Regions from separate parts of the Homo sapiens genome. Here region 2 is linked to region 1. Evidence: fine-mapped expression QTL. Tissue or cell type: whole blood. Region 1 holds a variant in brackets; the other region holds the start of a gene. All regions are shown on one strand. Distances are between the middles of the regions.

Region 1 (5,145 bases):
CCGTTACAATGGAGGAAATCAGGCCGGAGGGGGGGCATGTGCCCACTGCATTAGGGCAAGGGACAAAGTTGCTGCCGATGACCTTGCTAGAGCTTCTGCACGTGTTCTCCAGTGCAGAACACGGTCACGTCTGCTGGCCCCTTGGTCCCACATAACAGGCCCCTGGCAGATGAGTATCAGCACAACCGTTCCTTTTTTTTTATTTATGAGACAGAGTTTTGCTCTTGTTGCCCAGATTAGAGTGCAATGGTACGATCTTGGCTCACTGCAACCTCTGCCTCCCGGGTTCAAGCAATTCTTTTGCCTCAGTCTCTCAAACAGCTGAGATTACAGGTGCCCACCACCATGCCCAACTAATTTTTTTTTTTTTTTTTGAGACGGAGTCTTGCTCTGTCGCCCAGGCTAGAGTGCAGTGGTGCAATCTCCGCTCACTGCAACCTTCACCTCCCGGGATCAAGTGATTCTCCTGCCTCAGCCTCCAGAGTAGCTGGGATTACAGGTGCCTGCCATCATACCCGGCTCATTTTTGTATTTTTAGTAGAGACAGGGTTTCACCGTGTTGGCCAGGCTGGTCTTGAACTCCTGACCTCAGGTGATCCACCTGCCTTGGCCTCCCAAAGTGCTGGGATTACAGGCGAGAGCCACCGCACCTGGCCCAGCACCCCCATTTTATAGCTGAGGATGAGAAGACTTGTCCACACTCACACACCCAGGGAATAGCAGGGCCAGGATTTGAACCTGAGGCAGGTGAGCTCCAAAACCTCTCTCTACTGGGCTGCCCTGCCTAGATGTGGGCTGAGACTCCAGTGTGGCCCAGTGAGGGGCTGCAGGCTCCAAGCTCTGAAGGGGCGAGGGCTCTGCCTTCCTAGGAAAAACCCAGTGGTCCTGCCGAGCCCCAGAGGGAGGTCTCAGTTCCTCTCCTCCCAGTGAAGGCTGCTTGGGCTCCTCAGGCCAGAAGGCCCCTCAGACAGAGGGCGATCTAGTGGACAGGCGGGGCCGGGGGGAGCACTCTTCCCTGCCCCACTTTGGGGCCCGCAAAAGCTAAGGCATGTGAGAGGCTGGTGGTTTTCCATTCCCAAGAGTCTATATGTTGATGAAGCATCTTCTCCCTCAGTTGCCCATGGGCTTCCAGGACAACTCTAGAAAATGCAGATAATAAGAGTTTCTCACGCCCATTTGACAGATGAGGAAAGCGAGGCTTAGAGGTGTGATGGGCATGCCACACCCACCCATGATTGAGTGGCAGTAGGAAGGCAGGGATGTGAACCCAGGCCTTTTAACTGGAGGGCCAGGCCCTGCTGCCCATCATGGGCACACCTCCCGGGTCTCCCATTGCCCTTGGCTATTGGGTAGTAAACATCAGCCCAAGCTCAAGGACTGGGTGGGGGCACTGAACAAGGTGGAGGGGCAAGAGGTAGGTGCTCACCGATGAAGCTCTTCAGGAGGGGGTCAATGGGATGGGGCTGGTCCGAGATAAGGAACTTGACCGCTGTGATGACGGTGCTCCGGGTGTGTGGCCGACCTGCAGGACAAGAAGAGGTGAGTTAGTGAGGGGCAGGGGCCAATCCTGGAGGCTCACAGATCAGAAGGTGCTTAGGCTCCTCCCCCTGCTTCCCTGGAAAACAGAACTGTACCCCCTCCCCATCTCTGGGAAAGTGGATTCTACCATTTCCCTTGGCAGCCTTGAATCTCCCCTCAATTCTTCCTGCTGCAGCTGAAACAGTAGGACTGCCAGTGCTCAGGTAACACCACAGGCTGCAAACAGGGAACCAATAACCAAGACAGGAACTGCTCCAACAAAGACCTTCCCTCAGGCCTTGGGATTTTTCAGACATGTTATCTCAATGAGTCCTAACAATGATCCTATTAATAATAAAGTAGTATTAAAAGAACCAATAAAATCACCAATAAAAATCATCTCTTTGACATATGAGGAAAGAGAGACTCAGAGGGTTTAAGTTCATGTCTAGGGCCACACAGCAGATCCAGAATTCCTGGCTGGGCCCCTCTTCCTGGGGCTGCGTTCTGGCTGGTGGTCAGGGAGGCCTAACAGAACTCGGATCACCTCCAGGCTCGGTCACAGAGAGCTTGCTTACTTGTGCTTTGCCGCTTGCTTTCTGAGTAGAGAAGCCCAGTAAAGAGGGGAAGTACATTCCCTTAATGAAGGAAACGAATGGGTGGACGCTCCACCTGCGTCTGAATCTCTCCTCAGTGGCTCGCCCCCTTTGCTCCCTGCCCAACCCCAGCACAATGCAGTGAATGGGCTAAGGTGTTTCCACCCCACAGGCTTTATGTTCAGCCTCGAGGAAAAGTTTACC[A/G]TTTGGTGCTAAGGCATGAATGAATGGAAGAGTTACTGAATTCAGACTTTCAGCTTTTACCTCTTTCCCTTGCCAGCCTGACTGGCTCCCAGGAAGATTTAGGGTGGCTGATGAAGACAGGCACAAGAGAGTAAGATTAAGTGAACTGAAAACAAGAACAAGGCCAAGGACGACTGAAGGCAGGGAGGTGAGAAGGAGACTAGCAGGAAGATGTACAGAGAGCATCAATAAGGAAGTCCCAGGAACCTACTAGAAGCAGACCACTCATCTGGCTCTAAGCTTCCCAGCAGTTGGTGCTAAAAAGGAAATGTGACCGGGTGGCTGGTTCAACAGTGCACGTGAGATAGAAACAAATAGGTGTTTAGGCAAAGCAGGGCTCCTCTGCATCTTAACACTCTCGTCTCTCAAGGTTGTGTGATGTAATAGACAGTGTCCTCAACAATGTTCTTCCATCCAGTCCTGAGGCCAGACAACTGCTTCTTACGAACCCAGCAACCCAAGAAGGCCTTAACTGAAATCACTAACCTACCTAGTAACAACAGCAGCTCTTGATTTACTCAGTATTAATTACTGTAGGTACCACATAGGTTACCAAACACTGTACCTGCATTCTGTCAAGCAGAGCATCCACTGGTTCTGTAAGGGGCCAGCTGGCCAGCTCGAAGCCCACTGGCCTTTCATTCTGGGAACTCTCATTTTCCTAGGAGCCTGATGACCCTACCTGTCTGCTTTCCACCTCCTGAAGCTAAGACACCTGGTGTGCCAAAACACGACAAGCCAAAACGCCTGCCCCTCCTGGTTCTTGCCCAGCCCTCTCCAAGCCTCGGGGGCATGTCAGCCTGTCCCCGTCTATACTGACGTCTGCTCTTGGCTCAGGCTAGCCGAAAGAGCTGACCCTCTGCAGGCTGCAGTCTACGGCTACTGGGAAAACTGTTTTTGTTGACCTCTGTGTGGAGCACTAAGCTACTGTCCACATCAAGGATTATGAAGTTGGCATCATGAGGTTTTTTGTTTTGTTTTTTTTTTTGGTAGAGGCAGGGTCTCACCATGTTGCCCAGGCTGGTCTCAAACTCCTAGGCTCAAGTGATCCACCCACCTCAGCCTCCCCAAAGTGCTGGGATTACAGACATGTGCCACCATGCCTAGCCAACATCATGAGATTTTTAAATGTATTTGTTGTAGGGACCAATCAAGGACTCTGTCCCTTCTATCCCACAGTCCCATAGGAGGAAGGCTTTAAGTCTCAGGTATCACTGTGTGTTCCTCTGTAGCTTCCTTGCCTCTGTCGTATAGATACCGTGATTCTTGTATCCAGTGACTTGAAATAGCTCACTCTGCCCCAGCTGCCTGGATGCTCAGTGGCAAACTGCCCACCTCCGAGGTGGGCTGCCTTGCCCACACCTGTGTGCCTACCTGCAGCAAGCTGCTTCCGCAAGCGGGGCAGAAGGAACGAAGGGTTCACAAGGACCAGCTTCCCAATGCACTCGGCCACCACCCCCCGGGTGCCCTCCTCAGCACCCTCGCAGCGCTGGAACAGCAAGGCCCAGATGTCCTCGGCGTAGGGCTTCAGGCTGTCAGGCTGGGCGGCCCCCAGGGCCTCCCTGAGTGAGTGCAGCAGCAGGTACTGTCGTCGGGGCTCAGCCTCGATCTGCTCCAGCAGGAAGGGCAGGAAGTCGGGCAGGCTGCCAGCACCCACACGGCCCAGTGCATACGAGGCTGCAGCCCTCACATCCTCACTGGGTGACCCCAAAGCTTCCAGGAGCACCGCCTTCAGCTCCCGCTGGTGGCCTGGCCCAGCCACCTGACCCACCTCAGCCAGCGACAAGAATGCCAGGACCTTGACCCCCGTGCTGGAGTGGGGCGACCTGGCATCGCAGACCAGGCGACTGGCTGTGCTTGCCGCCTCTTGGGGACAGGCAGCTGAGAGGGCTGCCACACACCGGGCCAATGAGTGGAACACCTGCTTGTGCAGGCCAGGCCCACCATCCACAGCCTGCTCATAAACAGGCGCAGTGAGCAGGCTGATGAGTTTGGCATAGTCCACACACGGGGGACGGGTCCCTACCAGGGCCTGCAGGAAGCCTTCAGCAGCTGCCAGAACCCCGGCTGGCAACAGGGGCGAACGCAGCAGCCGCAGCAGCTCTGAGAGCACAGGGCCACTGACCTCCACCAAAGAGGCTGGCTGGGCCTGGGTCACTGTGGCAAGGAAGTCCACAGCCAGCTGGGCCACATGCATGTCGCTCTCGTTGACCAGGGCAGGCAGCTCAGCCAGCACGGCCTGCACGGCAGACGGTGGGAGGCTGAGGCCCTGGCTCTGGGCCAGGGCGTCCAGGGCTGCCAGTGTGGCCAGTCGCAAAGCCCGCTGGTTCTTCCGCAGGAATGAGGCCAGAATGTGCAGTGCCTCGGCCAGGATGGGCTGTAGGTCAAGCTGTAGTGGGGATACGGCCACCAGCGTAAGCGCCTTGATGGCGGGCAGCCGGGTGATCTCATTCCGCAGGCGGTCCAGGAGGAGCAGTAACGTGGGCTCCAGGTCATCCCCAAGCCGGTCACCCAGGTGGCCTACAAGGTGGCCCATGCAGGAAATGGCCCGCTCCTTCACCTCCTGGTCCAGGTCAGTGGCACGAAGTCGCGCCAGGGTGACAGCAGACATCTCTCCAACATATGGCTCAGGATCCAGCATCCGAGGCCTGTGCAGCGGCCACAGGGCCCGCACCAGCTCCTGCAGCACCACCAGGGCCTCGGCTGCAATCTTGTAGAAAGAGTCAGCCACACAGGCCATCACAGGTGGCAGGAGGATAGGCAAGTGTGGGTGGAAGGCCTCAGCTGG
Region 2 (5,145 bases), 22 kb before region 1:
CTGCAAAGTGAGTGCCACCAAATCCAGCTATTTTTTTTTTAATATATAAATGAGGTCTTGGTTTGTTTTCCAGGCTGCTCTTGAATGCCTGGCCTCAAGCAATCCTCCTGCCTTGGCCTCCCAGAGTGCTGGGATTACAGGTGTGAGCCACCATATCCAGCCCAGCTCTAGACTTTTAGAGAAATTTTAATAGTATTTTACACCACAGTGATTCCTTTTTTTAAAAAAAATTTATGTCCCTAGCATGTACAGTAAACACTAAAGTGATTCCTAAAGAATTCTTCCCTTTTATCACTTCCAGTAGGCCTCTGTGAAACCAAATCTACCTCCGCTTACAAGAAAGATGCTGGGCTGGCCTTCTCTCAAAGTCTTTCCAAACTTTTCTTGGCATTGACTTAGACACCCTAGGAATCTAACTTGAGAAAATGTTTTCATTAAAAAAAATCTCAGGAAGTAAAACCTCCTGAATGATTACTGAGTTGACATAAATCTTATGTGTATATTCTTATCAGAAAAAAAGTATCTTCATTTTGTGGGACACCAATTCATGTATTATTATTATTTTGAGACAAAGTTTCGCTCTTGTTGCCCAGGCTGGAGTGCAATGGCGCGATCTCCACTTACTGCAACCTCCACCTCCTGAGTTCAAGTGATTCTCGTGCCTCAGCCTCCCTAGTAGCTGGAACTACAGGCATGTGCCACCACACCCAGCTAATTTTTTGTAACTTTAGTAGAGATGGGGTTTCACCATGTTGGCCAGGATGGACTCGAACTCCTGACCACAGGTGATCTGCCCACCTCAGCTTCCCAAAGTGCTGGGATTACAGGCATGAGCCACCGCGCCCAGTCGCTGGGTCTTACAGTAACTTTATGTTTAACATTTTGAGGAAATGCTATTCTTTTCCAAAGTGACTGCACCATTTCATATTTGCACTAGCACTGTACGGACATTCCCATTTCTCTGTCCTAGTGAGTGTGAAATGGTATCTCACTGCAGTTCCAGTTTGTATTTCCCTGATGGCTAATGATGTGGATCATTTCATGTGTTCATTGGCCACAGAGAAATGTCTATTTGGATTCTTTACCCATTTTTCAATTGGGTTATTTGTCTTTATAGGTTTGTTGTTGTTGAGACAGAGTCTTGCTCTGTCACTCAGGCTGGAGTGCAGTGGCATTATCACAGCTAACTGCAGTCTAGAACTGCTGGGCTCACGTGATCATCCCAGCTCAGCCTCTCGAGTAACTGGGACTACAGGCATGCGCCACCAGCCCCAGCTAATTATTTTATTTTTTGTAGAGACAGGGTCTTACTATGTTGCCTAGGCCGGTCTTGAACTCCTGGGCTCAAGCAAATCTCCCACCTCAGACTCCCAAAGTATTGGAATTATAGGTGTGAACCATAGTGCTCAGCCAATTTGCACAATAATCTTAAATACAAAAGCTAAGCAAAACAAATCAAGAGCATCTTTAAAAACTAGGCAGTCTGGGAGGCAGGGGCTGCCGTGAGCCGTGAGATGGCACCTTTGCATTCCAGCCTAGGTGACAGAGGGAGGCCCTGTCTAAAAAAAACCAAAAACCAAAAAACAAAACAAAACAAAAAACATCTAGGCAGTAGCTCGTGCCCGTAATCCCAGCTACTCAGGAGGCTGAGGCGAGAGAATCGTTTGAGCCCAGGAGTTCAAGACCAGCCTGGGCAACAGAGTGAGACCCCATTTCTAAAAAATGAACAAAGAAAAACTAGGCAGTTTCGCCCAGTGGTTAGAAGCGTGGAGTTTGGAGTCAAGTCTCCAAATTTCATCTTCCACATATGCAAAATGGAGACAATAATAGGGGTACGTTATAGAATTGTGGTAGGCATAGTGAACTCCATCGCATGTTAGCTGTTTTCGTTACTATTTACTGTCTAAATTCGGTGATGAAATTATTAGGAAGTCTCTGTCTTGTTCTCTTCTGACCACTAAGAGGCGCACTTCGGAGTAGAAGAAACGCGGGCGGAAATAGCCCAAAAGCGGATTGGCTTCGACTTCTGGCGGAAGTAAATTCCTCCCTCCACCAGGTCTTATTAGCTCAGAAAGAATTCCAAATTTCTACGTAGTCCCAAGGATAGGTAGAATACATTTCTCAGTCCTATTCCTAGTTATTATTGTCTATTAAAACATGTATACTCAGAATTTTTGCGGCATTATTTTTTGACGTGTCTTTATTTTATTTAAAAGAGCCGGAGCCGGAAGTGCTTGCCTTTTTCCCTGCTAGGACCCAGGGGTTACGACCCATCAGCCCTTGCGCGCCACCGTCCCTTCTCTCTTCCTCGGCGCTGCCTACGGAGGTGGCAGCCATCTCCTTCTCGGTAAGTGTTAATCCGTGGCAATCCGCATTCCTGCGGGATTCATCTGGCCCCGTCGCCCAGTGGTGCGGAGGCCTCCCCTTCAGCGCGGTAGTGTCTGTGGGTATTGTTATTGTCAGCTTACTGGAGCGTGTACAGGAACAGAACGAAGCCGCCGAGTTGATAGGGCTTTGCGTCCCAGAGCCTCCTGCCCTCCGCCTGTATTCAGAGCTGCGGGCTGCTTGTTTGTTCCTTGGCGGTGGAGGGTGCTAGTTGAGGCCAGACTTCGGGGTCTCCTGGGGGCCGTGGGACGACCAGGGGTGGCCCAGCTTGACAGCTTTCAGCTGGGATCTGTGGATCCCAGCGCTCACCAATGTCGGCCCACGTGTATTCGTTCATGCCATGGCCGGCTTCTTCCGCTGCAGTCTCTGGCCCGAGGGCTGCTGCTGCGGGACCGCCAAGGAAAGACGAGCTGTAGGTCGGCTGGTCCAGCTGCAGGCAGAAATTCTGGTAGTATCTCTGGGAATATGAAGATGCAACTGCCCCCACCTTGCCTTCGAGGATATCATGGGCCAGAAGGCAGAGTCGTTTTGAATACGTGGTTCATTGAGTACCCACTCTGGGCCAGTTGATGGCTGCGAAGAGAGCAGAAGGGGTGCTGCTGTAGGAAATCAATGGCTCGGAAGACCACACTGAGGAAGGTGTGAGTTGATACTGGAAGATCTCCAGGTTTGAGGCATCTTCAGAGGTATATGGTGGTTTTGTGTGTGTTGAGGGTGTGGTAGCGCAGCAGCTCCCTAGGGAATTAGAAGGTTTTATTGAACATTTACCCTGTGACAGGCACTGCAGGCATTCAGCGCGCAGTGTCATCTTCATTTTACAGGTGAGGAAAAGACTCAGGTTCAAGTAGATGGTCAAGGCCAGTACTACCGGAAGGACCATCTGGGGGTTCGGACACTGGTGGGGTGGGATTTGCTGCCCCTTGCAAATTGAGAGTGTCTTGGGGTCAGTTTTGATTTGCTCAGCTGTTGGCATTCTTTGGGCTCTGAGTGGGTGAGGTGACCCTTGACCTCCTGGGATCGCATCTGGAGAGTGCCTAGTATTCTGCCAGCTTCGGAAAGGGAGGGAAAGCAAGCCTGGCAGAGGCACCCATTCCATTCCCAGCTTGCTCCGTAGCTGGCGATTGGAAGACACTCTGCGACAGTGTTCAGTCCCTGGGCAGGAAAGCCTCCTTCCAGGATTCTTCCTCACCTGGGGCCGCTTCTTCCCCAAAAGGCATCATGGCCGCCCTCAGACCCCTTGTGAAGCCCAAGATCGTCAAAAAGAGAACCAAGAAGTTCATCCGGCACCAGTCAGACCGATATGTCAAAATTAAGGTATGTGGTCCTGGGATGGAAATGGGTGTGGGGTGAAGAAAAGAGTTTCCAACAGTTTCTGACATCACCTAGTCAGGATTATCTTTGACCGATGAACTGGCTTGTGGAAGAGCTTTCTGTAGAAATACAGGTCTCCCCCAGTGTGCCCTAGTGCTGGTACTTATGTCTCTTGATGTGTGAAGCGAAACTTTAATGAAAAGGGACATTTGGCCGTTTTGATGTGTTCAGAGGGCTTTGCATTTGTGTCCTGTATTTTGGGTTGCCTTGTGACAGCAGGATCCCTATTTTATAGACAAGAAAACTCAGGTGCTGAGAGCAGTGTCTGCAGCTGTGCTTGCCATCTCAGTATCTACACAGTCCCCTCGCATCCCATTGGTGCCTCCTCCATTGCTTGGGAGTGGCAATGGTGGGGGTGCCTTCATCCCTAGTGGCTAAAGCCACGAGCTCCTGGTTTTTCCCACCAAAAAAGTAAGGAAATAGTGAAGTCCTGTTACCAAAGGCAACTACTGTGTGGCATACTTCCTTTTCATTTGGTCCTTTTTTTCCCTCCCCAAAAGGAAGAGTTCGCACTCTGCACAGACGCTAACCCACCTGTGTATTATTTCCTTCAGCGTAACTGGCGGAAACCCAGAGGCATTGACAACAGGGTTCGTAGAAGATTCAAGGGCCAGATCTTGATGCCCAACATTGGTTATGGAAGCAACAAAAAAACAAAGCACATGCTGCCCAGTGGCTTCCGGAAGTTCCTGGTCCACAACGTCAAGGAGCTGGAAGTGCTGCTGATGTGCAACAAGTGAGTTGGGTCCCACCTCTAGTTTTCAGTGATCAGAAGTTTGCATCTGTGTGAGCACTTCTGGCAGGAACTCTACAAACTCTTGGGATGCATTTTGGCGGGGGGTGTTGTACATTCTCTGAGGGAATCAGAAGTTGTTCCTTGCAGGATTTTAGAGAATGCTTGTTGGGGAATTCAAGGTGTTTCCTTTGCTGAAGGAGGTGACTTGGTCTTCTAAGTGTAGAGACCCAAGACCAGGAAAAGACTGCTTTGTGAACACTGCAATAATAGCCACTTTCCACTACTACAATATCCTTTGGCTGTTGTTTCCAAAATGTTGCTTTCTTTATGAAGGTGTCAAGCAAAAGAGTTGAACTCTGAAATATTCGAAGAGATTTATTCTGAGCCAAATATGAGTTGACCATGGCCCGTGACACAGCCCTTGGGAGACCCTAAGAATATGTGTCCAAGGTGGGCGGGGAGCAGCTTGGTTTTACATATTTTAGGGAGACATGAGACATCAATCAAATACACATAAGGCATACATTGGTTTGGTCCAGAAAGGCGGCACTTCGAGGTTTTGGATAGATTTTCTGTTTCTCGTCGAGAATTGGTTATCACTAGAAAGGAATGTCTTGGCTACAGTAAGAGGTTGTGGAAACCAAGAGTGCCCT

What was found. PIP is the estimated chance that this variant, and not a neighbour inherited with it, causes the effect.
Region 2: RPL32 starts here. The variant in region 1 is fine-mapped to the expression of RPL32 in whole blood (TOPMed, PIP above 0.99).

The regions. Positions count from the first base shown.
Region 1 is chr3:12,816,463-12,821,607 of GRCh38, reverse strand. CAND2 (cullin associated and neddylation dissociated 2 (putative)) reads right to left here. Exons shown (of 15, transcript NM_001162499.2): 10 at 3,732-5,145; 11 at 1,427-1,522. Among named protein-coding and RNA genes, the nearest start is that of SNORA7A, 21 kb to the left of the region's middle. The variant A/G (reference allele first, on the strand shown) is at 2,319.
Region 2 is chr3:12,838,696-12,843,840 of GRCh38, reverse strand. It overlaps RPL32 (ribosomal protein L32), which reads left to right and starts at 2,276. Exons shown (of 4, transcript NM_000994.4): 1 at 2,276-2,347; 2 at 3,599-3,699; 3 at 4,311-4,492. The coding sequence starts at 3,604. SNORA7A (small nucleolar RNA, H/ACA box 7A) reads left to right here and starts at 3,391; the gene lies at 3,391-3,529. RefSeq lists enhancers at 1,698-1,947, 2,041-2,977, 2,978-3,916.